4 linked regions of the Homo sapiens genome follow. The protein of the gene in region 1 purifies or fractionates together with the protein of each later gene. This does not show direct contact. Each region holds a gene or a part of one and is shown in the gene's direction. Other genes may lie near its edges. The genes, in order: MTNR1B, PDIA6, IRS4 and PPM1G.

What was found.
Region 2: the proteins of MTNR1B (region 1) and PDIA6 purify together in Homo sapiens (tandem affinity purification; 2 studies listed by IntAct). This does not show direct contact.
Region 3: the proteins of MTNR1B (region 1) and IRS4 purify together in Homo sapiens (tandem affinity purification; 2 studies listed by IntAct). This does not show direct contact.
Region 4: the proteins of MTNR1B (region 1) and PPM1G purify together in Homo sapiens (tandem affinity purification; 2 studies listed by IntAct). This does not show direct contact.

The regions. Positions count from the first base shown.
Region 1 is NC_000011.10:92,972,632-92,979,659, forward strand, and holds part of MTNR1B (melatonin receptor type 1B), read left to right. Parts: intron 1-4,527; exon of another isoform or gene 4,528-5,059; coding exon of another isoform or gene 5,060-5,156; intron 5,157-7,028.
Region 2 is NC_000002.12:10,795,774-10,802,801, reverse strand, and holds part of PDIA6 (protein disulfide-isomerase A6 isoform d precursor), read left to right. Parts: intron 1-161; coding exon 162-303; intron 304-5,044; coding exon 5,045-5,102; intron 5,103-5,594; coding exon 5,595-5,721; intron 5,722-7,028. UniProt on the Homo sapiens protein: May function as a chaperone that inhibits aggregation of misfolded proteins. Negatively regulates the unfolded protein response (UPR) through binding to UPR sensors such as ERN1, which in turn inactivates ERN1 signaling.
Region 3 is NC_000023.11:108,719,541-108,726,568, reverse strand, and holds the end of IRS4 (insulin receptor substrate 4), read left to right. Parts: exon of another isoform or gene 1-3,541; coding exon of another isoform or gene 3,542-3,567; exon of another isoform or gene 3,568-4,045; coding exon 4,046-4,050; coding exon of another isoform or gene 4,051-4,156; 3' UTR 4,157-6,623; downstream 6,624-7,028. UniProt on the Homo sapiens protein: Acts as an interface between multiple growth factor receptors possessing tyrosine kinase activity, such as insulin receptor, IGF1R and FGFR1, and a complex network of intracellular signaling molecules containing SH2 domains.
Region 4 is NC_000002.12:27,399,582-27,406,609, reverse strand, and holds part of PPM1G (protein phosphatase 1G), read left to right. Parts: intron 1-7,028.

The DNA.
Region 1 (7,028 bases):
TCTTGCACAGCCCATGGCACTGGGTTGGCACCTCACGCCTGTCAGATTGTGCTTCCCAGGGACTTGCCACACTTTTGACTCTACTGAGAGCCGTTGAGAACTTTCCCTCCTGGGCTCACCACTGCTGCCCTGACCCTTGAGCTACACCTCGCTAATATTTATCTCTTGCATTTTTGAGCTCTTCCTTTCTCTCTTCTGGAAACTTCCTCCATGTTACACACACACACGATACACAAAGTCTCCTGTTTTAAAAGAACAAAAGACTCTTTTCTTGACTTCATGTCCTCCTAACTTCATCACTACCTCTCTCCCTCCCTTTTCAGCCAGACATTTTAATGTAGTTGTGGACATCTACTGGTTCTACCCCATTGCTTCCCGTCCTTCCTCAGTCCTCTGGGCGCCATTCTCTGGAAATGTTCCTCTGTGCTGTGTGTGACACTGAGGGCCACTCCCTCTGTGGGACCTTTCATTCCCTCGGCTAACCTGGTGCTAGTTTTTGGATCTCCTTTTTCTCTTCATCTCCCGGATACCTGTGCCCTGAAAGTCATCTTTGGTTCCTCCTACTCTTTCATTCCACATGTCCTAATGATTTTACCTTCCACTATTTCTCAATTTCTCCCTTTCCTGCCTCCTTATTCTTACTGCCCCACTTCATGCCTTCATCATCTCTTGAGCAAACACTATCCATAGTGCTTGAGAGCTTTTCCTGCTCCCTCCCCCAGCCACTGTTACCACTGCCAAGAGTTTCCCTGTCTTCAGTGGCTGCCCTCCATCTCCAGAACAGTGTCCAACTCCAGAGCACAGCTCCCACGGCCATTTGCGGCTGGCCTAGCCCACCTAACTTACAGCCTCATTGCCCTCCTCTCACCAGTGTCACAGTGAGCTGCTGCTACTTCCCAAAGGGTCTGCACTCCCTGATGTACTTTCTCTACCTCTTCTGCCCAGTCAACAGCTGCTCCTCCTTCAACTCCTTCCCCAACTCCCCTGAAGGATTATCAATGTTGATTATTAATACCATGAAGGGGATAGTAAGTGTCTCCCTTGTTGGGCTTCTAAGATACCTGTGCCCTCCCCAGTACAGCATCCCCCTCACTGTACTATTGTTCTTTGTCTCTCCCCGCTGGACCGTGTACCTGCTGAGAGCAGACACTTTCATTCAGTTTCTGTCCACAGAGCCAGACACATAGTAAGAACAGAACACATCTCTGATTAAATTGGAAATGGATAAGACACCAGGTAGTGGGGGAAAATTAATTGATTTTGCTCCATGAGCTGGGATAGACCTCAGTTACAGTACTCAGCACTGCATAAGTAATCAATACAGGTTTTCATGAAACTGAACTGCTTTGAGAACAGCCCAAAGTATATCTCATGTTAAGCTGACTATTGGCACCTTCTGCATGAAGGCATGCTTGTTCTGTGATTCTCCTGTGTGAGTAAAGTTGCTCAGCAGTTTCCAGCCATGCCATGGTTGTACCCTACTGATTCCTCTTGGGGAGTTTGCCCCTGATATGCTTTGGCTGTGTCCCTACCCATGTCTCATCTTGAATTCCCACATGTTGTGGGAGGGACCTGGTGGGAGGTAATTGAATCATGAGAGCAAGTCTTTCCCATGCTGTTCTCACAATAGTGAATAAGTCTCATGAGATCTGATGGAAAAAGAGAAACTCCCCTGCACAAGCTCTCTCTCTTTGCCTGCTGCCAGCCACATAAGACATGACTTGCTCTTCCTTGCCTTCCACCATGATTGGGAGGCTTCCCCAGCCATGTAGAACTGTAAGCCCAATGAAACCTTTCTTTTGTAAGTTGTACAGCCTTGGGTATGTCTTTTGTTGTTGTTGTTTTTTGTGAGACAGAGTTTCACTCTTGTTGCCCAGGCTGGAGTGCAATGGCATGATCTCGGCTTACTGCAACCTCTCCTGCCTCAGCCTCCTGAGTAGCTGGGATTACAGGCATGAGCCACCACACCTGGCTAATTTTTTTTTTTTCTGAGACAGAGTCTTGCTGTCGCCCAGGCTGGAGTGCAGTAGCGCAATCTCGGCTCACTGCAAGCTCCGCCCCCTGGGGTTCATGCCATTCTCTTGCCTCAGCCTCCCGAGTAGCTGGGACTACAGGCGACCGCCACCTCGCCCGGCTAATTTTTTGTATTTTTAGTAGAGACAGGGTTTCACCGTGTTAGCCAGGATGGTCTCGATCTCCTGACCTCGTGATCCGCCCGCCTTGGCCTCCCAAAGTGCTGGGATTACAGGCGTGAGCCACCGCGCCCGGCCTAATTTTGTATTTTTTAGTAGAGATGGTGTTTCTCCATGTTGGTCAGGCTGGTCTCAAACTCCTGACCTCAGGTGATCCACCCACCTCAGCCTCCCAAAGTGCTGGGATGACAGGTGTGAGCCACTGTGCCCGGCCTTGGGTATGTCTTTATCAGCAGCGTGAAAACAGACTAATACAGCCCCTTTCTTGGTCTGGCCCGAGGTGGCCACTTTTAAGCTGCCTGTAATATGCTGGCCATATAAGAGAGCTGAGAGAACCATGTCCTCACTGTAACACCCAAGTACTCTCCACTATCAGAGAGGAAGTCATAACAACACCAGTTATTCCTGGCTCCATAGGCACAGCCACCTTAATTTTCCAAGTAGCAGTCAGAAGCTGTGGTCTGACAATGGATTTTTGTGCTGCAAATGGGTTAAAGAGGCTGTCTGGGAGGTTTAGTGAGTGCACGAATTGGCATTTCTGGGGTACGTTGATGATTGGTAAAGCAGAAATATATGAACTATTTGATGTTAAGATTGCCTAGGAAAACATGGAGGATTTGCTTGCTGAACACACAGATCTTTGTCCAAGGTCACTCTGTCTATGCTGGCAAAGCTGCCCCTCCTCCAGGCCCCCAGTGATGCTAAGAATTCACACCATCTCCTATCCAGAACCAGTAACTGCCTGGGAGGTTCCTGATGGGAATATTCTGCCTATGCAGGTGCTTTGCTTCCCCGGTTAGATTAGAAAACAGTCTGCACTGTGGCCCCTGTTCCTTGCCTCCTCTCTTCCAACTTGTTGACTGAGACAGCAAATGATGCTTAATAAGCAGCATGGTTCTGAACAAAGGCTCTGGAAGGCCTAGAGTGAAATGCTTAATAGGCCCACAGCCCCTACCCTCCAAGTTATAGAATGAAGTGGAGCCCACTCCATCAAGGCTTCTATCCTACCACCGACCACTCATTGAGATGTCACTTGGCATCAGGTGTCTTTTGACTTGCTCAGCCTGCAATGTTTAGAGTGCCATTATCAGCCCAAGACCAAACTGGGTAACCTTGGACTCCTTCCTGAATGTTTCTTAAGCTGTCCAACTTTGCATTTCAGCTGTGAATACCTTATTGCCTCTTCACTGAGCAAAAATGAACAGTTTTTAAATCCCATAATTATGTCTTTAGCTGAATAATCAGGAAAGCTAATAATCCTCTTTAATTCCTCCCATGTAACTTTCAGTAGCTCAAGGGTATAAAGACTTTAATGTTTGCCTGTCTTTATCTCCAGAAAGCTGGATTCTGCATTCGGATATGATATACCACAAAATTCAGAGAATACTGAAAGCTCCTACTGGCTCTTTCAATTTAAAATACTTACTGCTGGAGGAGTAGAGATAGAGAATTGGGAAGTAAAGCCCCAGTTCTTAGGGAGTTTGCCATCTAGAAGGAATGTCCTACTTTCTTCATCTTCATGTCCTTACTACTTCTCACATCTTATCTCACAGGGATCCCAGTCCAACCTTATGAGCCTCTTTCTTGATCTGTCAGTACAGCTAATAATATAAAACAGTAATAACAAATAATAGCTAATATTACTAGTGCTTGTTATATGCCAGATTCAAGTCTCTTTCCTTTAAGAGAGAAAGAAAAGGCAAAAAAAGCCCTCCACTGTCCCCTATCAAAGGGATATTCCTTCCTAAGCGCCACTCTCTATCTCCTTCTTTTGAAGGCAACACTGATAGAGCAATCTCCAGGGCAAAACTGGATCCCCAAGCTCTCAACAGAATTTGTTCTTGTTAATGTCACTACTGCCTTCCTAACTACCAAGTCCAATGAGCACTTTTCTGTCCTTTCTCACTTTTGTAGATGACCAAGAAACTCTCTACACCCTTTCTCTTAATTCCCTTGATATTTCTTTTCTTTGGTTTTCTCCTCTTCTTGTTCTTTCTCAATCCTTCTGTGTTATGGCTATGAGCAATTCACACAAACTGGGTGTCTGTTTCTTTATCTATAAAACAGAAATCATGCTGTCAACCTTAAGGAATTCTTGTGAAAAACAATGGAGTCCATTTATGTAAAACTATACTATCAACTTCACCATGTTATATCAATGGTTGTTTTGTTGCTATTAAGTGTAAAGTAATAAAATGTTACCTATCAGAATTTCAAAATGATCTCTTTTGATGGTTATTGAAGAATATTTTGTAAAGCATCTTAGTTATGTTTTTAAATGGATGCTTATGTTCTTAAATATATTTTCTTCTTTTAAGTGGTTGAAATACCCCCATATATATCTGTGTACACTATTGATTAGCCAGTTTTTGTTTTCTAATTAAATCAAAGTTAGATTTCAACTCAGCTCTTGTATGATTCATCCACACATCCTAAGATTTTCATAAATATGTGACTTTGGAAGAAAAAAATATCTGCTCTCAAGAGATTTGGGAATCTAATTACAAGCTTACAATAAATGCATTGTTTTAGTGTTTGTTTGAAAATCAAGTTGTGAATAAATTATATGGTCAATTATTTCAAATGCCCATCCCCAGAACATAATAAGAATATCTCACATTAATTTGGTGATTATTGTTATTTCTCATGACCTTTCCCATACAACATCTTATTTGAGGTAAACAGCCATTCTGGGAGTTAGGAGTTCTGTTGCAAAAGTCTTGGTAATTTTGTGTAGCTCCTTGGTGAATTGTCGTGCCTGACCAACCCCATATCCTGCCATTGTCCCCAGTCCCAAGTTGACTCACAAATTCCCCACTGTTCCCACCACCTTGTTCTGGCCTTTCTTCCAGCTCTCACCTAATTGAATGGCTACTGTTTTCTTTTGTTTCCCTAACAGTTCCATGGGCATCTCAATGGCAGGGGCCATGTCTTTCATCCATCACTGCGTCTTACTTGAATGTGGTAGGCACTCAATAAATATATTACACATTTAAACAGATGGAAGAGTGGAAGAAGACCTCAAGGCACAGAAAGTTTAACACTGTTAGAAAACATAGATCATTTGTTGACTTCCCCAACATATCCCTCTTGGCACCTTGTTTTTATTTGTTTAATGGTCTTCCCTAAGAGACCATAAACTTTATAAGGGGAGGTAGCCTGTCCATCTGGCATAGTCAAAGGCAGAACCTAGTATATACTCAGCAATATTTGTCACATAAATGACTTGATGATTCTCTCTTTCTATCTTGTCTTTTAGCTCAATGACCAAGGAGAATTTATGTCTAACCAAATTTTTCTTCTGAGCATGGAGGGTGAGCACAGAGGAGGGGGGCAAGGGTTACAGGGAGCTTTACCTTCCAGAATTCTCCTATCTGACGAATATTAGATAGCTCAGCACTGGCTGGCTCTTTCCTAGATTACCAGATCTCCATTAAGAAATACATTTTCCAGAAAGAAAGAGAGAGGAAGAGAAGAGGGAGGAGACTGTGATGGTTGTGTGTGTGAAAGGATGCGCTCTGCGTATGAATCCTGAAGGGGATTCCATGTTAGTAAACAAAGCCCTCTTGTCAAAGCCTCTCTCCACTAATACACCCTATCTGCTGGAGGCAGATGGAAACGAGTCACGCCAGGACCCATGACATAAATATTCATTATGCACACGGTGACTGCAGTGCTGTGTGCATACTGAGTGATTTCTCACCTGTCTGGGGAAGAAATGGATGGAGAACTGGATCTCCCCTTGACTATCATCCACATAGGACCTGGCTTCTTACAGATGGAAGACAAAACACAAATTTTATTCATCTAATTTGGAATTGTGCCAAGAAAGCCTGGAGACAGTGGGATGTCTGGGCAGATGAATCTATAGCAGGAAGTGGTTGATTTCAGCCTTTTAGGAACAGCCAGAGTAATAGGGGATAGTAATTGAATCACTTTCCACATGGAGTTGAATGTGTTCTTCTTACTATTTACAAGCTGTTTGCCAGCCTCTGGGGCATTATTAGGGGATAAGCCACATTAACACAGCAGAACTTGACTCTGCCTTCACAGGGAAACAGCTGGCAGAGCTGGCACCGGCTCCCAGCAGCTCTTGACTTTCTCTGCTCAGCTTGCAAGTGCCAAGAGCTTGTGTGTTGCTGGGCCAGGTGCCCAGCGGGTCCTATGGAGACTCATCTTCCTGTGCTGGAGAGAAGTGATTCTCTTCACAGAACCAACCCTATGAGTGTGCAGGGGGAAGTGATGGCAGAGCTCTGAAAGAAAAGAAAGGAGCTCATGTAGGAATAGTCACCAAGAAAGGAACTCGGGAACTCGCCCAAATTCATTCAACCATAAAGTGGCAGGACTCAGATTATCCCAGATTTCTCTGACTTCAGCACAACCCTCCAGATTTCAAAAGGACACATAAAATTCTCAGGAGACAAGGGTTCCTGATTCAGCTGAAGACAAGCAATGTGAGAGAGGGAATCCCTCATGTTCTTGGAACCAAGTGAGGTCTGTGTAGATGAGTCAGAGATGGAGATCCAGCAGTGGAGACAGCCAGCGGGCTGAGAATTAAATTAAAAGGCACAAAACCCCTCCACATCCCAAGCAGGTCCTTGTTGCACATTTTTTGCCTTGCTGTACCAACCAGAAAGGAAATGAGGTCATTTTTAACCCATGAAGTAAATAAATCTGTGAATAGTAGAGTAGGTAGGAATCCAGCAGTTCAGTTGAGTCATGATTCTCCTTTGCCATCCAACTTGCTGGACAATCTTGAGACAGGGAAACTCACTACCTCACAAGCGCTCTAATTGTCCAGACAATCTCCTTTCTATTCAGTTACATCCTGTCTCC
Region 2 (7,028 bases), on another chromosome or scaffold:
TCCAGGGGCTCCAACTGCAGCAGGAAGGGCAGAGGGGCCAGAGCTAGGCCGTCCTCCTGTGTGAAGGGCCCTGGTCAGTTAAAGAGGACTCTGGTTCCCCAGGGTTTCCAGTCAAAGCATGAACAGTGCTGTTAATGGTGCACTTTTGTTTTTATCTTCAGGTCTGGTGAGCTGTACCTTCTTTCTGGCAGTGAATGGTCTGTATTCCTCTAGTGATGATGTGATCGAATTAACTCCATCGAATTTCAACCGAGAAGTTATTCAGAGTGATAGTTTGTGGCTTGTAGAATTCTATGCTCCATGGTAAGTATTATAAAATAGTTGTAGATTATTTATAGTACTTTCTGAAATTGGAGAAAACGCTGTATAAAAATCTGATTTTATTAAGACATCTAGTTTAGCTTAGTGTTTGTTTAAAAGAAGTAGAGAAGAGGGAAATGGGAAATGCAAAGTATCTAGTCTGTTGTTAAGGAAGATCTGTCTTTTGATGAGGTGATGCGTGTGGAAGGAAAACTGCTTTTATGAGGAAGGAATCTTGAGCAAAGAAAATGGAGGGGCCAGTGATTAACTTCACTCTGTTTCTTGAAGAGAATTATTTCCTGAAAAAATGTAGTTAGAAAATCTGGTTTAATTTAAAAATTCTTTTCTTACCTTACATTCAATGCTGGAAGAACCCTTGTGGGGTAAAAATGTAATCACCATTGAAACTAACAGCACAAAATTATATACAGTCAAAAGTACAACATTGCACTAGTTATTTGTGTGATTAAAGCATTTAATGCAAAAAAACACCAAATAGAAGAGTGGAAACTGTGCAAGATGTATATGAGGCTGTCTCTGCTGTAAACCAGCAGGCCACAAGTATCCTGAGAGGAGAACCAAACCCTAGCCAGCTGTGTGTCTGTGAAGAACTGTGTGGTTATCTGAAATCCCAAGGAGTCCTTTGACATGTGAACAAGGCTTTGTAAGCTTAAGTGAGGGATATTAGAACCTGATGGGTACATTTTAGGGTATGCCTGATGAAACTTTTTCCTTTCTCACTTTAACTTTTTTCTTTGAAACTAAGTTTTAGAAACTAACCACCAGTCCTCATGGACCATTTTACTTCATGCTCAGTGTAGCAAATGGAGGTAAAAACGCTCTATTTTCAAAGTGGATGTTGCCACATTGTGCGTCCTGTCCATCTAATGCCTTTACTGTTTTAAAGGCTCTGGTATATATGTGTTCAGTCCAAATGCTAATTCTGTGTGGATTAGCTCAATTATACTAGCAAATACATAAATAGTAATTGTACAAACTGTTGTATTGTTAAACGTCTCTGTATGTGGTTTTTACAAGCTTATCATATATGGCATAGGTAATTTACCTTGTTTCTGAGAGCGACCATACAAGAGAAAACTCTGCAAGACAGCATAATTGAGAAGGCAGGATCTAGATCCACTAGTTAATCATTATTACACTGGCAGAGTTTTACTTTGTGGTGTTTGGGTGACTGAATGTCTGATTAGAGCAAGCGCTTTTTTTGAGAGACAGGGTCTCACTTTCTCCCAGGCTAGAGTGCAGCAGCATGATCACGGCTCACTACAGCCTTGATTTCTCAGGCTCAGGTAATCCTCCCACCTCAGCCTCCCCAGCACTGGTACTACAGGCATGTACCACCACGCCCTGCTAATTTTTGTATTTTTTATAGAGACGGAATTTCACCATGTTGTCCAAGCTGGTCTCTAACTCCAGGGCTCAAGCAATTCGCCTGTCTCGGCCTCGCAAAGTGCTGGGATTACAGCTGTGAGCCACTGCACTGGGTCAGGCAGGTGCTTTTTAACTTCCTTTTGTGCTTGGATTCCTTTAGCATCTTGGTGAAGGCCTTGGATTCTTATAATAAAACTTTTACGGTCAGGCATGATGGCTCACGATTATAATTTCAGCAATTTGGGAGACCACGGTGGGTAAATTGCTTGAGCACCAGAGTTCGAGGCCAGCTTGGGCAATGTGGCAAGACCCTATCGCTACGAAAATAAAAAGAAAAGAAACAAATTACCCAGACGTGGTGCCGTGTACTTGTGGTCCCAGCTACTCAGGAGGCTGAGGTGGGAAGATCACCTGAGCCTGTGAGGTAGAAGCTGCAGTGAGCTGTGATTGTGCCACTGCACTCCAGCCTGGGCAACAGTGAGAGCCTGTCTCAAAAAAAGAAAAAAAAAAAGATCTCCTTTAAAAAAAAAAATCAAAATCAAACCTTCACGTTTAAATAAAGCTTATAGAATCGCAAAAAAAAACCTAAAGTATGGAAATATGATTATTGAAATATTAAAATTTTGATGTTAATGTAGTACTTTACAAGAACAGTAAGTACAGGTTGAACATCTCTTATCTGAAATGCTTGGGACCAGAAGTGTTTCTGATTTTGGATTTTGTCAGATTTTGGAAGATTTGCATAATACTTAGCTGTAGAGCATCCGTAATCTGAGAATACAAAATCTGAAATGCTCCAGTGACTGTTTCCTGTGAGTGTCATGTTGTCGCTCAGAAAGTTTTGGATTTTGGAACATTTCAGGTTGTGGGTTTTTAGAATAGAGATGCTAAACCGGTACCAAGATCCAGCAGCAGGCTTGACAGCTGCAATAATTCTGAATAGTGATGGGCATAAATGATGTTTGAAGATACCTGCAGCAACTATAGTGGCGATCATGAAAACAGCTGTGATTTTCATTCATGATAAAGTCACAATAATTGACTGTGGAGTGTTGTTTACATTCGTAAGGAAATTCTAAATTTCGATTACAGATTAGTGAAAATAAAGACTTTTTTTTCATCCAAATTCATAGACTCCCTCCCCTAAATTTTTCCTAAAAGGCCACCTTGGCTTCAGATTTATTCTTTTTTTTTTTTTTTCTTTTTTTTCCTAAAAGGGATTCCCAAAATTTTTATCCACCAGCCCTTTGGGAGTCTGGACCCCAGTTGCAGAACCCCTGGGTAGACTGTATGCCATATTTATATGTATGTGGCATTATGATGTATGTGCAGATCAAATAGAAGAGAGGATGAACTCTGACAGTCTCTGAATTTAGTCCTCCTTTCTTAAACTGAAATTAAAGAGGCACAAAACCCTGTAAAAATCTGACTTCTGAATTTTTTAGTATCTCACCTAAACAACAAAACATACTGTATGTAAATATGTAGAAGTAGCATTTCAGGACATTCCCCCGATAGACCCTAACTTCAGATACTGGGATTGAGTTTAGGCCCCAATACTCAGTTACATAATAATTACGACTTCTACCTGTATGATTGTAGTGTTTGGAATCAAAAACTTGTCAGGCAGCTCTGACACTGGATGGCTGTGATATTGGGTAAATTTCTTCTCAACATCAATTCCATCATCTGTAAAATGAAATAACAAGAGGACCTGCCCTCAGCTTCATGCTGATTAAATGAAGTCATCTATAAGTGTTTTCATCATGGTGCTGGCACCTAGCATTTGTGCATTTGGTTCTTAGAGACCTAATTAGAAGAGAATTTACTTTGTTTTTAAAAATGCATTAAATCACCAATGGATAAACTATGGTGTCTGCATACAGTGAATGTTACACAGCAATAAAAATAAACAGTATAGCTACCTACAACCTCAATGAGTGGTAAGGGCTAATAGGTTTACGCACATGTAATTTTTTAAAAGCGCTTTTCTGTGTTGTATTTCCCAATAATAGTACCTGCAAGGTTAAGGTTGTTTTTCCTTGTGTTCTCTTCTCTCCTCCTCTCCCCACTCTCTTCCGCTTTCCCTGCCTCCCCCCACCTCAGTCATTCACTCACATCGCCATCTTGTGGTGTCACGTCATGCTTTTCGGCTTGTTAGGCTCACTAACGTGGGTTTATGCATGTGTTTCTAAGTCCAGAAGCAATTTGCGGGACCCAGAAAGTATTGAGATATAGGCATAGTTGATCTGGGCCAGATACTTCATATATAAAATTAAAAAGTTGGACTAGAGACTATCAAACCCCAGTAGGTTTAAGAATCACTAGCAGAACTTAATAAAATGCACTTCTTCCACTAGGAAGTTTGGGTTTGTGGACCCCAAGAATCTGCATCGTGCCTAGGCTTTCAGCTCCACACAGTGAAGCACATTGGACCAGATAGATTCTAAAGGGCTTGTTGAGGGTGTAGAGTTGTAAATTATAGAGTTTAAATGTGATTTAATTGAGCAGTAATTCGGAAGCTTTTTTTTTTTTTTTTGGGTGGGGGACAGAGTCTTGCTGTGTTGCCCGGGCTGGAGTGCAGTGGCACGATCTCAGCTCACTGCAACCTCCGTTTCCCGAGTTCAAGCGATTCCCCTCCCTCAGCCTCCCCAATAGCTAAGATTACAGGTGTGTGCCACCATGCCCAGCTAATTTTTGTATTTTTAGTAGAGACAGGGTGTCACCATGTTGGCCAGGCTGGTCTTAACTCCTGAGTTCAAGTGATCTGCCTGCCTTGGCCTCCCAAAGTCAGGCGTGAGCCACTGCACCTGGCTGGAAGCTTTTTTATTAGGATGATATGAAAAGTGATTGTTGTAAGTAATAAAATGGTGAGTTCATCCAGGTTGCTGATCCTATTTTACTTATTTATTTTTATTTTTATTTTTTGAGACAGAATCTCACTCTGTTGCCCAGGCTGGAGTGTAGCGGCATGATCTCAGCTCTTGCAACCTCTGCCTCCTGGGTTCACGTGATTCTTGTGCCTCAGCCTCCCCAGTAGCTAGGATTACAAGCGTGCACCACCACGCCTGGCTAATTTTTGTATTTTTATTAGAGACGGGGTTTCACCATGTTAGCCAGGCTGGTCTCAAACTCCTGACCTCAAGTGATCCTCCCTCCTCGGCCTCCCAAAGTACTGGAGATTACAGGCGTGAGACACCGTGCCCGGCCTTGATCCTGTTTTATTTGTGCTTGTCCTCTTTGCAGGCATCTCATTCAATAGACCATTGATGGGGTTTTTTAATTGAATTTTTGAATTTTTTGAATTGAGAATCAAAGGCTTTAATGGTTGCTTTGTGTTGTCTTCCCCCAAAAGGTGTGGTCACTGTCAAAGATTAACACCAGAATGGAAGAAAGCAGCAACTGCATTAAAAGTAAGTTTCTTAGGAATGCAAAAGGCTTACAAAACTTTTTTTTACAGTAAGTTTCTAAGATGTCCATATTCACCTGTGTATGTTTAAGTAATAAGTATGCAGATGGTTTAATGTTCAATGGGAAGCTAGTTTGCATATCAGAGTTGAAAATACTGGTTCTGTTGTCAAAATCATACTGAGAACAAGGGGATAATACACATTTAAATGTTTACATTGCCTGTTTTTGTTTATTGTTTTTCCCAGATAAATGACAGTTACTCTCAGCCCTGCCAATTCTGTGAGCTGCAGAGTTCCCTCCATGGGCTTTGATTTCCCCCATCATTCCATTTAGATTCTCTTCTGGTGTTCAAGGCTAAAGCCCTTATTGACTGATTGCAAACTGCACCCTGTGCTTTATTACCTTTTTCTGAGTCTATGTGAAGCAGATAATGAGTTCTTGTGGAGTCTGCTTTAGCGGAAGGAAAAATTGTTATTTCTTTTACATTTCCACAGGATGTTGTCAAAGTTGGTGCAGTTGATGCAGATAAGCATCATTCCCTAGGAGGTCAGTATGGTGTTCAGGGATTTCCTACCATTAAGATTTTTGGATCCAACAAAAACAGACCAGAAGATTACCAAGGTAAGGACTTTTCCTAGCTACTTCATTCCCCTGGTAGACAAGAACCTACTGTTCTTTAACAAGCTTGAGAACCTGCTCTACCTGCAAGGTTCTCAACCTCATTGTACCTGAATTATCTATAAATGGTACACAGTGATTCCTATACCCTCCGAGTCATTCTGAAGATGAAATATGTGTCACACAGGTTTGTCTCATCACTTAACGCTTGCTTAGGTCTATGCTACATTGGCAATGATAGAAAATAGTGTTCTGTGCTACCCTGTTGTCTTTCTCATTACAGTCACTTGTATTTAATAAAGATCTACATGTATTTTCTTGCTCTAATCTCTCTTCCCTTTACTGTAGGAAAAGGGTCTAACATAACACTATGGAAAAGGAGACTGTAATTTGAGAGTCTTAGTCTCCTAAACTGTCAATAATAAATGGATACCACAAATTCTGTTTTGTAGATAAGTAAATTGTTAGTGTCTGCTGTGAGCCACTGAGGCAACTAAAGAAAGAATTCAGGTTTCACCCTCCCAAGACTAAATGTTATTTCAGCCACACTATTCTTTTTTTCTTTTCTTTTTTTTTTTTTTTTAAGAGACAGAGTCTTGCTGTGTTGCCCAGCCTGGACTCAAATTCCTAGGCTCAGGCAGTCCTCCTACTTCAGCCTCCCAAGTAGCTGGGATTACAGGCACCACACTCTTAGAGAATTGTCTTGTTATTTAATTAAGATATCACAAACGGGCTGGGCATGATGGCTCATGCCTGTAATCCCAGCACTTTGGGAGGCCAAGACGGGCGGATCACGAGGTCAGGAGATCGAGACCATCCTGGCTAACACGGTGAAACCCTGTCTCTACTAAAAATACAAAAAATTAGCCGGGCACGGTGGTGGGTGACTGTAGTCCCAGCTACTCTGGAGGCTGAGGCAGGAGAATGGCGTGAACCCGGAAGGCGGAGCTTGCAGTGAGCCGAGATTGTACTCCAGCCTAGGCGACAGAGCGAGACTCCGTCTCAAAAAAAAAAAAAAAAAAAGATATCACAAACAGATTATTCTATTTAAGATAATCAGAGTTGCTGGGTTGGGCCAGATCCATAGTGCTAGTAAAAGTATTGGGCATAATTTGTTTGAAGCTGAAATTATGACTAATTTGGTAAAGGTTTTTGTTGAAGATTTATATGGAACATATGAGTGACTGAACTTTGTCATCTTAGGTTTTGCTTTATGTGAGCAGTATCAGCTCATGGGTTGGGTGGCAGCATCAACATCGTAGTAAAAGAGTTGTCTGTCATCGGTGACTTGCCTGAGTCCAGCTAATAGA
Region 3 (7,028 bases), on another chromosome or scaffold:
ATGTGATTTTTTACTCTTGCTTTTTAAAGTTTTATGCCTCCAGTCTTGAAAGCTTACCAACCTTGTCCTCGCACTCAGAGTCCTGTGCCCCCACCCACCTCCATGATGAAGTCCTTATTGTTGCTGCAGCTTTTACCATAGTTTCCCTTCGGCTGTCACCCTGCCTCCGACTCTTCCAACTGGTTGAGTATGGGGGACACAATTCCTATTGCCATGGCTGGAAGACATATATTCCTGGAGTCTCAAACTGAAACTTCACATACATCTTCCCTCAGAAATGATGACTGGGTATAGTCAAAATAGTTCTCTGTTAGTTCAGGAGTTGCATAGGTTAAATATAGGCATATCTAGACAAAGCTATAAACCTATCCACCATTAATTTATGACATTGTTTCTACAAGATAATTTATTCTGAGTTTCAACTAAACAATGACCTTGGAATATGTCTGTTTTGTAAATTTGAAACTGCCTATATTAGAATTCTAGTAACTTGCATTCTTTAAGTTGGCAGTAACTAGGCAGCAGAGTGAAGTGGCCCATGTGTGTGTTGGGAAGTAGTGGAGAAGCTGACCTACCATGAAAATCCTGTAGCTGATCTCCATAGAGTTTGTATCCAGATACTCAAGACTGGAATGCACATGCATAAGTGGCCCAGGGCCTGCTAACAAAGGGCAGGTGTAAAACGATTGAGCTGACCTTTGAGGAGATGGGGGTTTACAAGTGTCATACATTTCCCTTACAGATTCTTTTGAGCATTCTGTCCCAAAACTATTGCCATTGTGGGAACAAAGGTATTTTATCATCCGATCTATGAAGGAGATAATAGTCTGGTATAATTGGTGTTGTAAAGACTAGCAGCGATTATTACTAGTTTTTAGCCTTGAGCAATAGCACTTAATTTTATCAAGTCCTAGAGAGTCATCCTCCTCTACAATCACAGGGCACAGAAAAGTATGATGATCCTTTCTTATTGAGAAAAAACAAAAAAACCTACATATACTCCAGAGACAATGCTAAGCTAACTAATATAATTGCATTATTATACATTCATCTTTGGCATGTATGCTTCAACATATCTTTCTTTGCTTCCCTTTTTTTTTTTTTTTTTGGTGCTTTACTTGGTTGCCCCTGCTTATGTGAGCTCCAGTTGATCACAGGGGTGCAGGGATAGCATGTTGTCAAATGAACAGAGTGAGGAATTTGCAAAAACCCTTGAAAAACATTTTTGAGCTCCAGGAAAATTGGAGCTGAAAAGATAACTAAGACAATAAGTTTGCAGAAAGGGAAAAGAGAATGAGAGAATAACAATATATTGTTATAGGTTCACCTTTCTCTGAGCAGAGGAAATACTGCTGTTTCGGACTTCAAAATGTAATAGAGGCATATTTATGATTCATATAAAGAGGTCTGAAATACCCTGGAGGAACTGCCTACTTGGCTCACCCTACAAATTTCCAGGGATATTGAAGTCATCTGTGCATTATTAGCGTATTAAAGATTAATGTTCAGGTTTATATCATTATATAACTCGAAACAGAAAAGTTTACTTCATTTGTTTTTGAGAAAAAAAAGTTCCCTGCCAGATTTTGGTAGGAGGAGTAGGGAAATATTTTGACTCATCAGAGTCCACTGAGGTTTTCTATATTACAGAGAAAAATTACCTGAAGAGTATACCACCCATTAAAAAGGGTGAAATTAACTTGTTGTTTAAAAGACCTTTGATTAATTGGGAAAATAAGAATATACAATAAGGTAAGTATTTATAACCTGTCAGTATCAAATGGGAATAATACATCCAAAACAGACCACATTATTACAAGCATCACCATTTACCTTGCTGATGGTGAAATCACATAAAAATGAACGGGAGACAAATCTAAGGTATGACTTTTAGCCCTTTAATATTCATTTTGCAGACTGTTCACAACCAAGTTTTAATCTCGAATTGCTTTCCTTTGCCACCCAGCAAGCTTCTGAGTTGCTTCCTTACGCTGTTCTTTGGAATGTGCCCCGGGAATGTAAACTCATTTTAATATTGGCCTAAGTAAAATAGGATTATAAAGGCAAATCTGTGGCTCAAGTTCCCATAATGCATTTCAAAAGCAAGTTAAATTATTTTGGGATTATCCTGTTTGGGATAACATTATTCCTTTCTACTAGCATAGTTAATCAAGAATTGACAAATGTATTTTGTGAAGTAAACATGAAATTACACAATTATTTGTCACTTTTTATTAAGTTACCAAACATTCACTTAATGCTGGTGTAGGTGTTATAGGAAAGCAATGGCAATATGAATCAAATTTTAGTAGAGGCTCTGTCATTTAAAAAAAGGAAAGAGAAAGAAAAACAACTCCAATAAAAGCAAATGTTCCTAATCTTAGTATAATGCCAATAGGGTAGTTATATGGAGCTTAATTTGCAGGTTTCTGGGAAAATATATATGAAATCCAGTGTATCATATAAGACAGCAAGAAGTCCCTTTTAAAGCACATGCAATGTGCTATATATGGACATATGAAAATATTTTTGGTATTAAAACAAAATAGTAAACTAAACTAGGTGAAATACCTTCCTAACCTTAAATATCTATTTTAAAATGTAGCTGATATCTGATAACACTGTAATACTGGTACTGGTCTAGCCTAATTTTGCAGCGAATTAACAGTTACTAATATGCAGTCTCACAGTTAACTGTGGTTATCACAGACTCCTTTCTTCCTGTGTAGAACTAGATACATAAAATGTAAAATTTCCTAAACCCACTGCTGACAGGAAAGCTTAATACCTTTACTAATCTATGGCATTTTTTTGAGACAGGGTCTCACTCTGTCACCCAGGCTAGAGTGTAGTTGCGCGACAGGGTTTCACCATGTTGCCCAGGCTGTTCTTGAAATCCTGGCCTCAAGGGATCCACCTGCCTTGGCCTCCCAAAGTGCTGGGATTATAGGCATGAGCCACCATGGCTAGCATTTTTTTAAACTTCTAATCTACAAGAACAAACCTATACATTGAATCTTAATGAAGAGACACAACTAGTAAGAGGGAAATGTACTGTTCCCACTCAGTGCTTCATCCAGCTGCAAATTTGTTACATTTTAAAAATCCTTGAGCCCAGGAGTCTGGGTGGGGCTGCAGTGAGCCATAATGATGCCACTGCTCTTCACCCTGGGCAGCATAGTGAGACCTCATCTCTTTAAAAAAATTGTAAAACCTTTGATGAGAAAATGAATACTTAAAATGTATATTTCCAGTTTAATAGACAATCTTGTACTTGAAGCCCACTCTGGGGGATGTTTTCCATGGATTCTTTTAAGATGTCTCAAATAAAATAGAATACTTGGTACTTTGTGGTGACCTGATCTTAAGGTAACACTGGCATCCCATAATCAATTTGCTGATCATTTATTCCTATCCCTTCTCTGGTCCAGCACCTTCTTCTATGTATCTGATCACCCCCTGCCACACTCCCCATTATGCACCCACTCAAAAGCAGAAAGCCAAGAGAATAATGCTGGAACTTTTTTCTTTTATTAAACAGATGGGAATTTCAAGTCTCCTTTGCAGGTATGACTTTGTTCTATTAGAAGAAATTCAATGATTGAGTCTAGAGACCATCACCAATGCTGTACTTAAATCCTATGACTTGTGCCACATAACCTGGTGAAGGCAGAGTCAAACATGTAGAAGAAGAAGAAAAAAATCTGTTTCTCTGCACAATGCCTGGCTCACTCTTGGGCTCCACTGGAAGAAAGTAGAACAGTGCACGCACGTGCAAAGATGCTGTCCACCAGAAATGTCAGTGACAGCCTGGGGGCAAGAAGAATAACTGCCCTTGTGTCTTTGCCCAGCTGATATTCCTCACAGGCAGCCAGCAGAGTTGATTAACCATGTCCATGCCCAGGCAGTCTCCTCTGTATATCTCTCAAAAACTTCTAGTTAGATTTTGTTTTGTTTTGTGTTGTTTTGTTTTAAAACAGGGTGGGGGTGACAGCTCTCCACATTAATTCTGCAAGTAACTTTTGTTTTATTATCTTTTTCCTAGAGTGATTATATTGCCACAAAAACACATTTTAGAAGAAAAGTGATGCTTATGGAATTTTATCTTCGTCTACTCCAGATCTGCCTAAAGGAAAGAAAACTCAGAGGCTTCTGAGTAGAAAGCAACCCAAATTTCTACAAGCCTACAAGTGGACTCTGGCAATTGAATGATCCTATTCATGCAGATCATTCATACTGCTGCTTATGGATCCAGTGATTTCTAATTAACAATATTTACACTGTGCTTTGTTTTTTGTTTTCTGGTTTTCCTCCCCAGTCTGTCCCTTTGAAAGGAAACAGATACTATACAAGTGAGCATCTCATAACTCTTTCCCTCTTTAAAAAAAAGTAACTTAGAATACATATAAATTTGGTCAATGCCAATTTTAATAATGTAAAATATTTAGATTCAATTTTGAAGTTGAAAAACTTTAAACCAGGGCACATAAAGAAAAAACAGCTGTCATAATTGGAAGGAAGGTATGATCTGGAATCTTTTTTCCGAGTATTACACACACAAAACATTTCTTGATCAATGAATTAAATGTCAACTGAACTGATATCTTGATGGGGCATTACCAGTATTTTAAAGGCAGGACTAAAGGGCAGATTATTTCAAGTTTTGCTCATTAGCAAAACTGCAACATTCTGCTCATGTTATATGTCAATGAAACTAATATCTTGATTGAGCATTTCCAACATTTTAAAGGCAGAACTGAGAAACAGCTATTTGTTCACATACAACACTGTGATGTTCTGCCTGAAAATCGATTGAGTATTTCCAAACCTATTATTTTTCATTTATTGTGAAACCTACATTTACCTCCTAAAAGAAACAAAGCTCTTCAAAAGTCTCTTCCCAAGGCCCCTCCCTGCTTCTCTGGGCCTCTCCCCACTTTCAACCTCTATTCTACTTTTTCTTATTCTTTCTCCATTTTCCCCAATGCACACTCTTCCTCTTATGCCCATGGCTACTATAAAGAGATCAATTTCCCATATTCAAGAAATTAGTGTTTACTTATCAATCAATATTCTGACAAAAACTTAAGCCAAAAAGAACCTCTTATAAGGCCTTGTTTCCTTCTGGATATTGAGCCAATATAAGATGTACCAAATTAAAAAAAAAAATCAGAGCAAGCTCCCCCCCGTTCTATTTTTGCTTGCCTCTGATGTAAACTGAATTAAGATTTTAGGTACCTGGACCTTTGAGAACGTGACACTAGCAAGGTGGTGACCACAGAGAATAGGTACAAAGGTCTTGAAGCTTGCTTAGAGCTTTGTTCCGTGGTGGCACACAAATCTTGGCTTGCTGTACCATCATTGGCAAACCTCATCATATCACAGTTGGGTGTGTTTGTATGTGTGTGAGCACTAGTGTGTGTGTGTACATATTCGTGTGTATGCACACTTTGTGTACCTGTGTACATGTGATTGTAGATGTACCTGTTGTGTGTAAACTCTGTTAAAATGAAATTTGCTTCGCATTTAATGTGCAACTTTGAAGTAGTGTAATATTTATCTAAAGGTTTTCACTACTTGGTTTTAATGTCTTTGAACGTGTACTTCTATCTTCAAGCAAGCTTATAGTACGTGTTGCTAAACTAACTTTTCCAAAGAACCGAGTTGACTTCTATTTTTCCTTGCCTACCAACCAAAGGGATGGTGGGCTCTTTTTTCCCTCTTGTAAATTGTGCTGAGGAGAGGACGTGGCTATGAGATCAGTCATTGTTCCAGTTACTGGTCACTGCTAGGGCATCAACTTTATCAGTTCCTTCAGACTCTTCTCTTTTTCCAACCTAATCAAATAACGCAGTGTGGCTTTTGTTCATTATAACAACGCGCTCTTTAGGCAACTTTTTTTCAAGCCTTCTGTCACCATTTTATTTTTTCAAGTAAGTTAAGTAATAATTGTTCAGAATTGTGGGAAAAAAGATTACTTGGGGGAAAATACTGTATCACTTTATTTGCATATTAGGTTCAGAAGCTGCCAGCAGACAGGGTACAGAGGGTACAGCACAGATGTAACAGTTGCTGAATAAATGAATGAGAAACCTCATACACAGTAGTACGTATTATACAAATAGTAACAGGTACACATAGTCACAGGTACTGCATAACAAATGCAATCTTGTTCTCATTATTTATTAGTTTACAGACAATTAATTTATTCAGTATTGTGCTGGAAGAATCTTTGTGGAATATGTTTACCAACTTATCACTTACCTTCCAGCTATCAGTTCATGCTGCTAAGAAAAAACAATGATGGAATATTTTTGTGTGTGTGACCTCTACATTTAATTTGATATCAGGCATAGTCACTTGGTCGTTAAAAACTGAAACTTTACAGTTCCACCAGCTAATTACATCTGCTATTTCTGCTTCACAGATATGCTTTGAGTTGCTTTGGCTTTGTCTTCCTTTGTAAATACTCTTGTACTTTCTTTTCCTTGTAAACATCTCGTTTGCAGTTTTGGGAGACGACTTTGCAACTCTGTATAGTGTTTATATATATATGTATATCTATATATATCTGACTTGCCTTTCCATACAGCTACTCACAATAAATGTGTTCATGTAAATTATTCCTGTAGAGATTCATTTTTTAATACTATTGTCTCTACTTTATTATAAATATATTTTCCTGCTTTGTAGTAGGATTGACTGCATTTTTCAGAATGAAACAAATGGGGTATTTTAGGGTTTGGGCTAAAGGTACTTTGCCTAGAAACATGAGGCTTTTCAATAGAGTCAATAAAGTCAACTCTTGATTTTTCAAATGTAGAGGTGATACTAGTGTAGAACAATTTATAAAATGACTTACCTAAAATTTCATGCAGACCTTGGATAATGAGTGAATCCTATATTGAAGCAACTACTCAAGGAGGTTGAGGTGATCATTTACTTTTTTTTTTTCTGTCTCCTTCCCTTGACACTTAATCTTGCTCTTTAAATTACTCTTTTTTTTTTTTTTTGTTTTTTTTGAGACG
Region 4 (7,028 bases), on another chromosome or scaffold:
GGGACGGTTTAGTGTGTAGAGATCTTACTAGACTATTCCTTACATCCTAATCTTCCTCCTGAGAGATAACTGCTTAGGGTATTAAAATCTTGCTAATGTGCTGTTTCTGAAGTTGCCCTTGTTTGAATAAATATGCCTAATCAATAGTTAAATATGCCTAATCAAATCCTCTTGAAGAGTATTGTTTGGGATCCTATTCTGCTTCATTGATAGTGTTCCTTCTGGCTTTTTTTCTCTTCAAAGTGTAGCATAGTTTCTTTGCTATTGCAAGAAAATAACTATGAGTTCTAGCCTCTTCCCTGAATCTTATCTTTCCAGAAAATATAAAGTACTCCCATTCCTCTGAAGCTTTAGGGCTTAATCCAAAAATTAATAAAGTTTATTTACCCTATTTGCTTGGTCCTAATGCTTCATTTGAGGTAAGGTTATCATACCACTAAAGGTTGTTGACATGCTGACTGATGGATAGATTTAGCCGTAGAGAGGACTCTTGAGACAAAAATGGCAATCATCAATAGCTGGCATTTTTACTTTCTGCCTGTTTCAAGCTTCTCTTCCTGTGTGACCAGGGTGTTGTTGTTGTTTGTTTTGTTTTGTTTTGTTTTTGAGACGGAGTTTCTATCTTGTTGCCCAGGCTGGAGTACAATGGCATGATCTCGGCTCACTGCAACCTCCGCCTCCCGGGTTCAAGCGATTCTCCTGCCTCAGCCTCCTGAGTAGCTGGGATTACAGGCATGTGCCACCACGCCTGGCTAATTTTGTATTTTTAGTAGAGATGGGGGTCTCTCCATGTTGGTCAGGCTGGTCTCGAACTTCTGACCTCAGGTGATCGGCCCGCCTCTGCCTCCCAAAATGCTGTGAGCCACCATGCCCAGCAACCAGGGTGTTTTGAGAAAAGGTAATCAAAATACCACAGGCCAGTCGTGGTGGCTTAACGCCTGTAATCCCAGCAGTTTGGGAGGCCGAGGGGGGCAGATCACCTGAGGTCAGTTCGAGACCAGCCTAGTCAACATGGTGAAACCCCGTCTCTACTGAAAATACAAAAATTAGCCAGAGGCCAGAGAATTGCTTGAATAGGAAGGCCAGTGAGCCGAGATCTCACCGCTGCACTCTAGCCAGGGTGACAGACTCCGTCTCAAAAAAACAAACAAAAAAACCACCACAGTTGATGTTCTCCTCCTTCCTCCTTTCTCCATGAAAAAAGTGGATGAGGTATGTACTTTGGGATTAAGAGGTAGGCACTGGGCACGGTGGCTCATGCCTGTAATCCCAGCACTTTGGGAGGCCGAGGTGGGCGGATCACGAGATCAAGAGACCGAGATCATTCTGGCCAATATGGTGAAACCCTGTCTCTTCTAAAATACAAGAATTAGCTGGGCATGGTGGCGCACGCCTGTAGTCCCAGCTACTCCGGAGGCTGAGGCAGGAGAATCGCTTGAACCTGGGAGGCGGAGGTTGCAGTGAGCCGAGATCGCACCACTGCACTCCAGCCTGGGCGACAGGGTGAGACTCCATCTTAAAAAAAAAAAAAAAAAAATGAGGTAGGTTGTGGAGGGGTGCCTGAAAAATTATAAGGTAAGGCCCTTGAGTTTTTGTTGGCTAAATAAGAAGTCAAATCTGAAAATAGATTCAGTTGATGTAGTCTTTTTTTTTTTTTTTTTTCTCCGAGACGGAGTCTTGCACTGTTGCCCAGGCTGGAGTATAATGGCATGATCTTGGCTCACTGCAACCTCTGCCTCCTGAGTTCAAGCGATTCTCCTGCCTCAGCTTCCCGAGTAGCTGGGATTACAGGCGCCTGCCACCATGCCCGGCTAATTTTTTGTATTTTCAATAGAGACAGGGTTTCACTATGTTGGCCGGGTTGGTCTCCAACTCCTGACCTCTTAATCCGCCCGCCTCGGCCTCCCAAAGTGCTGGCATTACAGGCGTGAGCCACCATGCCTGGCCCATCAGTTGATGTAGTCTTAAGGGGACAAGAGTACATTTAATATTTGGTTGTGAGGTTCTCTGGAAGTGACAAAACTGCTTTCTATGGAGAGTTAGGAATTTTTTTTTTTTTTGAAACGGAGTCTCGCATTGTCACCCGGGCTGGAGTGTAGTGGCTTGATCTCGGCTCACTGAAACTTCCGCCTCTTGGGTTCAAGTGATTCTCCTGCCTCAGCCTTCCAAATAGCTGGGATTACAGGAGTCTGCCACCAGGCCAGCTAATTTTTTTTTGTATTTTTAGTGGAGACAGGATTTCACTATGTTGGCCAGGCTGGTCTCAAGACTCCTGACGTTGTGATCCACCTGCCTCGGCCTCCCAAAGTGCTGGGATTACAGATGTGAGCTACCGTGCCCGGCCAGGAATTTTTTGTGCTATAAATCATATTTTCCTTTTATTAAAGGCAGTGTCAATATCTATAGTATAATTTTGAGGAGGCTGGCTATTTATTGCTGTGTAGAAGCTGGCTTATTAGTGGTCAAGGGGTCATCTAGAATTGACTATAAAGATAGTATTGAGCAGAAAATTCTTAAAATACCTGCATATTTGTTTCAGTCATTAAATTAATGGAAAAAATATAAAAAGAAATATCACAAGTATGCTATGGGGTTCTACCTTAGGGCATTGAAGGTTGAAAAACATTTATTTTCTTATCTTCAGATTAGCATCTCATATCAATAGCCAATAGCTTAAAGCGCTTTTTACTTACTAAACCAGGTCAGAATTTCTCTCTCTCTCTCTTTTTTTTTTTTAGACAGAGTCTCTGTCACCCAGTCTAGAGTGCAGTGGTGTGATCTCGGCTCACTGGCCTTTCTGTTTAAGTGATTCTCCGGCCTCAGCCTCCTGAGTAGCTGGGATTACAGGCATGTGCCACGACACTTGGCTTATTTTTTGTATTTTTAGTAGAGATGGGGTTTCTCTGTGTTGGTCAGGCAGGTCTTGAACTCCTGACCTCAGGTGATCTGCCCGCCTCCGCCTCCCAAAGTGCTGGGATTACAGACGTGAGCTACTGCGCCTGGCCAGAATTTCTTTGTCTAGAATGTGGTTAGCAACTTTTATAAAAACGCATTATTTGCATTTGATTAGCATGCAGTACCCATTCACAGTTCAAAGCTAGTATAGAATTATATCACATGTATGCCCATGAGCATGGAGAAACTATTTTCTTTTTATTTTTTTAAGTTGGAGTTTTGCTCTTGTTGCCCAGGCTGGAGTGCAATGGTGCCATCTCGGCTCACTGCAGCTTCTGCCTCCTGGGTTCTAGCAATTTGCCTACCCCAGCCTCCCAAGTAGCTGGGATTACAGGCACTCGCCACCATGCCCAGCTAACTTTTTTGTATTTTTAGTAGAGAAGGGGTTTTCCCATGCTGGCGAGTCTGGTCTTGAACTTCTGGCCTCAAGTGATCTGCCCGCCTCAGCCTCCCAAAGTGCTGGAATTACAGGCATGAGCCACTGTGCCCGGCCTTTTTATTTTTTAAATTATTTATGTATTTATTTTGAGACAGGATCTCACTCTTGCCCATGCTTGAGTGGTAAGGAGTATGGGATTTCTTGTGCCGGTTCCTTCACATCCTCACTACACTTATCTGCCTTTACAGTGGCTCGATCATAGTTCACTGCATAGCCTTCTGGGCTCAAGGGGTCTTCCAGCCTCAGCCTAATATAGGCACATGCCACCATGACTGGCTAATTTTTTTTTTTTAAGTTTTTTTTTGTAGAGATAGGGCCTTGCAGTGTTGCCCAGGCTGAGGAATTTTATTTATGTTTATTTTATTTATTTATTTATTTATTTATTTATTTATTTATTTATTTATTTATTGAGATGGAGTCTTACACTGTCACCCAGGCTGGAGTGCAGTTGCGCGGTCTCAGCTACTGCAAGCTCCGCCTCCCGGGTTCATGCCATTCTCCTGCCTCAGCCTCCCGCGTAGCTGGACTACAGGCGCCCGCCACCACGCCTGGCTAATTTTTTGTGTGTGTTTTTAGTAGAGGCGGGGTTTCACCATGTTAGCCAGGATGGTCTCGATTCCTGACCTCGTGATCCACCCACATCGGCCTCCCAAAGTGCTGGGATTACAGGTGTGAGCCACCATGCCTGGTCTAGAAATTATTTTATATTTTATACCATTGCCTTATAAGTTCTCAAGCAACTGGAAAATACAATCAGAACGTATTCCTCAAGATTTCAAGGATATTTTACACAAAGTTCTATTGTCTGATTCCTTAGCAGTTGTTACTACTGTTTCCCTAACCTCTAATCTTCTATTGGGTTATTAGTCTTAGAATTGAATTTTGAGAGGTAAGGGCTTGAATTTGAACATAGAAATTTATACAGGTCTGATCAGTAGTTCTTGACATTGTATTATCTGGAAACAAATCTTTAGAACTGAGCTTAAGATGTTTAATGACATTTTGTAGACAGAGTATGATTTCAGTGTAGTTGTTTTTGTTTCTTTCTAGATCTAGTTCAGAGATGAAGTATATCAACTTTTTTTTCCTTTTTGACCCAATGCTAGCAGAAAAACAACACCTTTTAATCATATTTAGTATTTGAAAATGTGTATACAGGTTCCTTTTTATTTTATTTATTTCTTACAGGTTCCTTTTTAATCAGCTTTATTGAGATAGAGTTCATATACTGTATGGTTCATACCACATATGGTTCATATACCATACAGTATATGAACTCACTTTAAGAGTATAATTCAGTGGGTTTAAGGGTATAATTCATTCATTTTAAGGGTATAATTCAGTGGCTTTTAGTATATTTTCTTTTTTTTCTTCTTTTTTTCTTTTTTCGAGACAGGGTCTTGCTCTGTTACCCAGGCTGGAGTGCAGTGACGCAGCCTCAGCTCACTGCAACCTCCACCTCCCAGGTTCAAGCGAATTCTCTTGCCTCAGCATCCTGAGTAGCTGGAACTACAGGCTCACGCCACCACACCCAGCTAATTTTTATATTTTCAGTAGAAACAGGGTTTCACCATGTTGCCCAGGCTGGTCTCGAACTCCTGGCCTCAAGTGATCTGCCTGCCTCAGCCTCCCAAAGTGCTGGGATTACAGGCATGAGCCACCGTGCCTGCCTGTTTTGTAGTGTATTCAAACAGAGTTGTACAACTGTCACCACAATCAGTTTTAGAACCCCAAAAAGAAACCCTGTACTCTTTACCAGTCACTCCCTATCTTCCGTCCACTAACCCCTGGCATCCACTAATTTACATGACCTCTATGAATTTGCCTATTCTGAACATTTTATAAATGGAATTCTAAATACACTACCTTTTATATCTGGATGCTTTTACTAAGCATGTGTATTTTTGAAATTGACTTTAAAGCTTGTTGGCCCCTGGAAGAGTAAATTACTCTCCACCCCAAGTATTCCCTCTACCCCTCAGCTTTGCCTGTAAGTTTCTTTTTAAAAAAATCACACATACATTGTTGTAGTAGATTTAAGAATAAGTATTTTGCTGACCCAAGGTTCTTTTGCTTCTTTCTAGATCAGTGCCTTGCAGGTTTTATTTTACAGAGCTTAATAGAATCAGAAATCTCTTTAAAACTCCAGTCTCATATCCAGTTATCACTCACCATCTCTGTGTTTGCAGCAATAGCCAGGCCTGGCCCAGAGGGACTTGATCTCCACTTTTGGTTTTTAGACTTTTCTGTGGCTTTTACCACCTGCTGTGTATCCTTGACCTCATACTGCTGGACTCCTTTGGATGGATACCAGCAGGATGGTTCAGGCTCCAGTGGGCACTTTTTAAAATTCTCTCCTTCTGTTCAGATAGACAGAGCTCAGGCAGATCACCAAGTCTGTTGCCTGTGTAACCAGGAAAGAGATGCTAGTTTTCTTTTAGGCACTCCCATTTGTTTCTGTTGGAACCTTCCTCACTTAGTTGATGGAAGGGAAGCAAAAGACCCAGAACTCCATCTCAAATTAATGACTTAACAATTCTTGAATTTTCTCTTATCTCCTAGTTAACTCTTTTTCTTATCTCCAGGAGGTCAGTTTTAATTATTGTTGTTTATTCATTTATTTTCATGGAGACAGGGTCTTACTGTGTTGTCCAGGCTGGCCTTGAACCCCTGGCCTCAAGGAATCTTTTCACCTCAGCCTCCCAAAGTGCTGGAATTACAGGCATGAGTCACCACACCCAGCCTGATATTTTTCAGTTGATGTATCATAGTTGTGCCTAAGCATAATTTTTTAATTTTAATTTTTTATTTTTGGGGACAGGGTCTCCCTCTGTCGCCCAGGCTGGAGTGCAGTGATGCGATCTCAGCTCACTGCAACCTCCACCTTCTGGGTTAAAGCGATTCTCCTGCCTCAGCCTCCCGAGTAGCTGGGACTACAGGTACCCACCATCACACCCGGCTAAATTTTTTGTGTGTATTTTAGTAGAGACGAGATTTCGCTGTGTTGCCCAGGGCGGTCTCGAACTCCTGAGCTCAGGCAATCCGCCTGCCTCGGCCTCCCAAAGTGCTGGGATTACAGGCATGAACCACCACGCCCGGCCAAGCGTAATATTTTTAAGGGTCATCAATGTTGTGTCATGAATCAATCAGTGTTTCGTTCTTTTTTATGGTTGAATAATATTCCATGGTATGGATTTGTCACATTTTGTTTATCCATTCATTAGTTGATAGACATTTTGGATTTCCACTTTTTTTTTTTTTTTTTGCTATTATAAATAGTGATACTATGTACAAATTTTTGTGTGGAAATATGTCCTCATATCTCTTGGTTATATACCAAAGAGTGGAAGTGCTGGGTCATATGGTAACTACGTGTTTAACATTTTGAGAAACTGCTAAACTGTTTTCCAAAGTTGCTGTACCGTCGTACATTCCTGCCAGCAATATATGAGGATGCCAGTTCCTTCACATGTTCACTACACTTATCCACCTTTTTTATAATAACTAATGGTGGGTGTGAGATGGTATCTCATTGTAGTTTTGATTTGTATTTCTCTGATGGCTAAATGGCTAATGATGTTTGAACTTTTTGTTTGAGACAGAATCTCACTCTGTCCAGATTCAAGCGATTCTC